2 linked regions of the Homo sapiens genome follow. The gene in region 1 interacts genetically with each later gene. Each region holds a gene or a part of one and is shown in the gene's direction. Other genes may lie near its edges. The genes, in order: ARL5A and TRAPPC10.

The links.
Region 2: changes in ARL5A (region 1) and TRAPPC10 together harm fitness more than expected from each alone (negative genetic interaction), as found in Homo sapiens cells (one large-scale study listed by BioGRID).

What each region holds. Positions count from the first base shown.
Region 1 is NC_000002.12:151,798,213-151,801,598, reverse strand, and holds the end of ARL5A (ADP-ribosylation factor-like protein 5A), read left to right. Parts: 3' UTR 1-2,802; downstream 2,803-3,386. UniProt on the Homo sapiens protein: Lacks ADP-ribosylation enhancing activity.
Region 2 is NC_000021.9:44,088,749-44,092,571, forward strand, and holds part of TRAPPC10 (trafficking protein particle complex subunit 10), read left to right. Parts: intron 1-1,084; coding exon 1,085-1,185; intron 1,186-3,174; coding exon 3,175-3,301; intron 3,302-3,823. UniProt on the Homo sapiens protein: Specific subunit of the TRAPP (transport protein particle) II complex, a highly conserved vesicle tethering complex that functions in late Golgi trafficking as a membrane tether.

The sequences.
Region 1 (3,386 bases):
AATGTTCAAAATGCAAGCATAACATTTAATATTTGTCCACATGGTTTTACAAAAGTAAATCTTAAATTACTAAGCTTTTCCCATATGTTCTCGTACTTTCTCAAATCCCTATAAAGAATTACTTGTTATCTATTAAAAATCTCCTTTACCCAAATCTGTATTATGGTTTCGCCAGACAAATATTATGTGATGTAGCCCAGAAAATCCACACCTTTTGTCCTTTTTATGTTTTAATTTGAATAATCATGTGCTTAGTCCCTTGGATTACTGCCACATCAGTTTAACACGATATCAGCACATTCCCTTGTCATCATCAAGGTGTTGGCTCAGATTTATTCTTAATTGGATGTTTAAAGCATGTACTACCTTGTTACAGTTGGTTTAGTGTAGTGGATTATTGACATGACATCATGAGAAGATGTGTAATTTTATACCACATTTATAAAACATGATTTTGTTTTCTACCCTTCAAGGTAAACATTAAAAATAAGGTGGTACTTGTGTACTTGTACATAAAACCAAAATTATAGTTGGGAAAAAAATAAATTTATATATGAAAATGTCAAAATCATTTTAAAAGTATTATTTTCAAATAAAATGGAGAAGCTGGTGAAAAGTCATATTGGCAATTTTTATGTAGTTTAAGTGGAATTAAGCAGAGGGAGATGCTTTTGGGTTTTTAATATGCCACTTCTGAGTGAAAACATCTCGTGGAGTCATTGTGTTCAGCTCTGAGAAGAACAAAGATTCATAGTTCTGTACATGTGGCTGGATTTAAATATCCTGTTTTTGATACTAATTTTGAAAGTCATGTAACTTCTTTTGATATCTGGGCAAAAGTAACCATATGCTATAAGCATTTGAATATGTTTAATTTTATCATAATAGCATCTGTAAAAGTACATCTTACACATTATATAGAGGGTTCTTGTTTGAAATTTTCAGTTCTCTTTATCTTCCCAGTACCTCTTGGTCCTCATAATGGGCAAAGGATACAACGAAGGCAGGTTGTATAGGGGTTATAGTGGGGAAGTGGATAGGGGATTCATTTTCTTATGTGACATTTTGCCTTAAGAATATAAAAGTGCTTTAGCACTGATGGCTGGCATTTTTAATATAGGCAGTGAAAGTGACTTTAGAAGCATGGGATGAAATAGAGGGAAGAAGAGTTTTTATTTTCTGGCCTTTAAAAAGTGCCTAGTAGGTCATTTGAGACCCAGAGAAATGCACAGAGCTTGAGCAAAGGCATGAAGTCCCTGACATTGTTTTCCTTTTTGTCTCAGCATATAGTATTAAGATGCCTAGAAATAGGACTCTATTGTTCCCTCTTGTATAGGCACTTTACATTTCTTGTCACTACAGCAACCACATACAGTACAGACAACCTCCAAACCTGTTTATATTAGTGTAAATAGAAAATCTATAGACAACTTTCTAGTTTTCTCTGGAGGCATTTTTGGGAATGTACGTGTAATAGGCTCTGCTTTGTATACAGGAGATAATACCACATCATCGGTTATCTCCAAACTCCAGTCTTCTCTCAACTGCCCAGTTGTATGTTGTCATCAATCACTTTTTCAAGGCTGGGTAGAGACAAGTTTCTCCTCGTAACTTTGACCTCTCCCACTCTCCAAATGTAATCTGGACCTCATTGCTTTCAAGGTCAGCTTCCCCATAGCTCAGGTATCCTTTGCTCTCCTGTATCTTCATTTACTATTAGTGAAGAGATCTCTGTCCTGGAGGTTATTCTAAACTTTCTTTGTAACTATTGTTATAGACAATGGTTTCCAAACCAGTGGTTTCTATGTAGCTTTTCTAGTTCCTTGCTATCTTCTCACCACTGGCTTGAGGTAGTGATTTGGACTTTGCTCATTAGAGAGCATTATCAGAGATGTGGAGTCCATCAGAAGACCAGCTTGCAGTGTGTATAGCATATAGATGCCAATATTAGAATTCTTTAAATTATATTTAACATTTTCATGCTTCTTAATTTAACTTCACATGTTGGGAAGTAGATTCAGAAAGATAGGAGAAATACCCAGACTCTACCACTTCCGTGAGCTACTAGTTAGGCATGGGCAGGATTAAGTTTTATGTGTATTATCTTCCCACTACCAAGAATGGTTATGTTTCACAGAATACCAGTTCAGTTTGATTTGGAAAAAGATGCCAAACCAAATTTATATGTAGTCTATAATCTAAGGGCATTCTTGAAACTATTGCCCACATCCCATTTTTTTTTTCATGTTTACTTACAAAACAGAGATAAACATTAGATGTCTAAAGGAGTTAGTAATGAAAAGCCTATCCTTAAAAAATAAACCTGTTGAAATGGGCTTTAAAGACATCGAAATAATCACTTGTCATGCATTGACTGTAAATGCAGATAGAGAAATATGTCTTTGAAGCTCCACTTACACAAAAATAAAACTTGTATATCATGCTCCCTCAAAGAATGTGCGATAGATTATTTTAAGACCATGATAATAGAGTAAAAAGGAAAGAAAGCCAGAAATTACAATTTTGGATGCTAAAAAGTAACTTTCTAGTTAACCCTAAAGTCCTGTCAGATTGTGAAGAAATGTTCCAGGATACACTTGGATTAGTTATGCAGTATTTCTTATCAATGTCTAGCCCTTGTGTATTGTTCTGAAAACTAAAGTTTAAATCTTTATGCTGTTGCTTGCTAGATATCCTGTTCTTTGGTAGAAAATTCCCATAGTCTGTACTCAAGAAGTGCCTAAAAATGGATTTGTGTTGATTTTAAGCCCATCTAATAAATTATATGTATTTTCTATGGTATCGTATGGCTTGTCTTAACTGATGACACAGCCTAGAGGATTTCTGTCACAATTTGTGCTTTATTTGAATACAAAGTCTTTTTTTTTTTTTTTTTTTTTTTTTTAGACAGAGTCTCACTTTGTCGTCCAGGCTGGAGTGCAGTGGCGCGATCTCGGCTCACTGCAACCTCTGCCTCCTGGGTTCACGCCGGTTGTCCTGCCTCAGCCTCACAAGTAGCTGGGACTGCAGGCGCCTGCCACTACGCCCGGCTAATGTTTTGTATTTTTAGTAGAGATGGGGTTTCACCGTGTTAGCCAGGATGGTCTCAATCTCCTGACCTCGTAATCTGCCCGCCTCAACCTCCTAAAGTGGTGGGATTACAGGTGTGAGCCACCGCGCCTGGCCTAAATAAAAAGTCTTGAAATGGAAGATATTCACCTAACCCTCAACAAACCATGATGTAATGAAGCACGAATCACACCATTTTGTCTCTTTCCTAATTCAAATAGGTCCCTGGCATTAGTTCATGCCGAGACTAGAAAACTGAACCCTAGTACTGTTTTTTAAAACAGTTTTAACAGAAAATTAAACTGTATGTTTGAAAT
Region 2 (3,823 bases), on another chromosome or scaffold:
TGGCGCTGGTGGCACCTGTGCTGTGTGCCGTGTTATCCCACTCTTCCCTGGCGCTGGCGGCACCTGTGCTGTGTGCCATGTTATCCCACTCTTCCCTGACACTGGCGGCACCTGTGCTATGTGCCGTGTTATCCTCTCTTCCCTGGCGCTGGCGGCACCTGTGCTGTGTGCCGTGTTATCCCACTCTTCTCTGGCGCTGGCGGCACCTGTGCTGTGTGCCGTGTTATCCTCTTTTCCCTGGCACTGGCGGCACCTGTGCTGTGTGCCGTGTTACCCCGCTCTTCCCTGGCGCTGGTGGCACCTGTGCTATGTGCCGTGTTATCCTCTCTTCCCTGGCGCTGGTGGCACCTGTGCTATGTGCCGTGTTATCCTCTCTTCCCTGGCGCTGGTGGCACCTGTGCTGTGTGCTGTGTTATCCTCTCTTCCCTGGCGCTGGTGGCACCTGTGCTATGTGCCGTGTTATCCTCTCTTCCCTGGCACTGGCGGCACGCACGCTGTGTGCTGGGGTATTCACCTCTTCCCTGTGGGGAATAAGGCTTGAGACTTGCTTCCTTCCTGCCCTTAAGGGATGTAATAGCTTTGTCCTCACTGTGCCCCTAAACTGATTTGGTTTTCAGTTACATATTCAGCCTCACATGGATTAAATGCTTAGATAATTCATTAACTATGGAGTAGTTACTGATTGGCTAATGTCATCTGGAAATACATGACTGAAAGCACTTTGTCAAAACCCTGTGCACATTGCAACATGCATGGCTCCGCGGCCCTGCGTGTATGGGAGCAGCAGGTGGGTCTGCTGCTTAGAGGACGGCTGTGCTCTTCCGCCGTTGAGGTGACTCTGGTGATGTGTGCATGTCTTGCCAGTTCTGCGTTCGTTTCTCTTGTCTGTATGCATAGCTTCCTGTTTCTCGTTGGTTTGTGTATGTGTTGGGTAAGGCTTTGCTTCCTGGATAATGAGTGGTTGAAGCCATAATAAAATGTCTAGGGCGTGGGCGGGCACTGCAGGTGAGTCTGGGCAGCAGTGGTGGTGGCTGTGCTGTCCGTCGGCGAGTGGTCTGAGAGTGTCTTTGTGCTTCCTCCTCAGGTGTCGATTGACTGCCCGTGGTCCATCTACTCCACAGTCATCGCACTGACCTTCAGCGTACCCTTCAGGACCACACACAGCCTCCTGTCCTCAGGAACACGGTAACGGAGGCGTAGCGTGCGGGCCCTGGCTTCTTTCCCCAGACTCTTCTAAGTGGAGGTTCCTAATGTTCAAAACTGGCCTTCGTGGTGACCAAGGATGTCTTCTTATGTGACCACAAGGCCATTGTTTGTGTCTTAAAATCCACAATTCCCTGGTGTCCTGTGACATCCAGTTCATATTCAGGTTTTCCCAACTGTCTGAAAATGACCTTTTATGGTTGCTTTGTGTGACTTGGGGTCCAAAATCTCCATCAGACCACTAGATCTCTGTTCATCCTTTCTTCCCTGTTTTCAAGCCATCGACTTGTTCACTTGCAGGCCAGGTTTCCTCTGGACGCCCGCCTTTCTGGATCTGGCTGGATTTGTTAACTAGTTCTCCTGTCCCTGTATTTCTTGTCAATTGCCTGCAACCTCTAGAACAGGAGCTTTTAAGCTCAGCATTAGTGACATTTTGGGCTAGATAACTCTGTTGTAGGGGCTTTCCTGTGTGCTGTAGGGTGTTGAGCAGCACCCCAGGCTCTCCCATGAGATGCCAGTAGCACTCCCCACCTGCAGGTGTGGCAGCCACAGATGTCTGTAGACACTGCCCAGTGTCCTCTGGGTGGGGCGGACGTGCCCCAGTGGAAAACAGCTGCCCTAAAGGCTTGAGTAGACTCCAGTTCTGCTTTGAGGCAGGCGGGGCTGTGTGCTTCCTGTTGACTGCACCGGGAGGCCCACGGTGTCCAGGTGTCCTACCTTAGTGACGGTGCTAGCGTTGATCAATGGGCTCGGGATGCTAGCCTGGCCTCTCACCACAACTTTTTATCCATTGATGATGTGTGGATAATTTGGAAACAAAAACGTCAGACCCATGTTTAGAATGGAACATTATACTAGCAGCTTTTTTCCCCTTCAAATCACAGCAAAGGGAACTGTAGATATTAATAGTTAAAAACATCAATAATCTCTAAAAGAACCTTATTAAAAAATTATTTTTCAGCCGGGCGTGGTGGCTCATGCCTGTAATCCCAGCACTTTGGGAGGCCGAGGCAGGCGGATCACGAGGTCGGGAGTTCAAGACCAGCCTGACCAACATAGTGAAACCCCGTCTCTACTAAAAATACAAAAATTAGCCGGGCATGGTGGCGGGCGCCTGTAATCCCAGCTACTCGGGAGGCTGAGGCAGGAGAATCACTTGAACCTGGGAGGCAGAGGTTGCAGTGAGCTGAGATCGTGCCATTGCACCCCAGCCTGGGCGACAAGAGCAAGACTCTGTCTCAAAAAATAGTAACTATTATTAATATTTTCAAAGTTTTGCATGTAATGGAAATGGATATAAGCCCCGCCTATCATCTCTCAATGGAGAGTCTTCACCTGTAATGAGGAGGGCTGCTGCTGTCTCCCCGTGGCTCCCCAAAGGCCAGTGAGGGTGACCAGCCATGATCACTTAATAAGGCTGGTCAGAAACTATATTCTTTCTTCCATTGCCTCACAGAACTTGCCTCTTTAAAAACTTTTTTTATTTATTTTTATTTGTTATTTTTTTGAGATGGAGTCTCGCCCTGTCACCAGGCTGGAGTGCAGTGGCGTGATCTCAGCTCACTGCAACCTCCACCTCCCAGGTTCAAGCAATGCTCGTGCCTCAGCCTCCCGAGCAGCTGGGATTACAGACACGTGCCACCACGTCTGGCTAATTTTTATATTTTTAGTAGAGATGGGGTTTCACCATGTTGGCCAGGATGGTCTCAATCTCCTGACCTCATAATCTGCCCACCTCGGCCTCCCAAAGTGCTGGGATTACAGGCGTGAGCCACCGTGCCCGGCCAAAAAGGTTTATTTTCTGGCACTTTTCGGTGTGAAATCTGAAGGGAAACTTATGCAACAACTTAGCTTACTTTGCTTTGTTGCTTTTTTGATTCCCCAGGCAGAGAGGGTCTCCTTAACAAAGCTAAGATATATTTAATAAAGTTCTTACATATCAAAATAATACTTTTTGTTTTTCCACTTTAGGAAATATGTTCAAGTTTGTGTCCAGAATTTGTCAGAACTTGACTTTCAGCTGTCAGATAGTTATCTTGTAGATACCGGTGATAGTACCGACCTGCAACTAGTACCACTGAACACGCAGTCCCAGCAGGTAAACATTGTGTAGACCTGAGCATAAACTTCTCAACAGAGAACCAGAGTGTACGGAAATGATGTAGTATGTGTTGCGACTGAGCCTTTAGATAGAACAGCTGCACTGCTGATGAGTAAAGGCTCCTGTGCAGCTCCTCCGGCTGCCCTGAGGCTGGATCGAGGCTTGCTCCTGAGTAAGCGGGTGGCTGGATGGATGAATTCTTCTTTTTAGAAGAATTAAATCTGAAACTGGTCCCACTCTATGCGTAGACGTGTGCAGATCCAAGCTTCTGTTTGAACGCACTGTTGATTGCATGGGCACTGCTCCACTCTGCCCAGAGCCTGATGCCTGCCAGTGCCAGAGCGATGGTGCCCGACACCTTGGTGCCTTTGTAAAAGAGCCATGCTTGTGCCTGCATCTGGACCTTGCTTTTTCTGTTTATGGCTCGCTGCCTGGATGAATCTTGAACTTGCTTTTTCCGTTTATCTTTCACGTGTGTTTTTAGGCAGTAAATGCTGAGTGTTTAGAGATCAAAGGCTT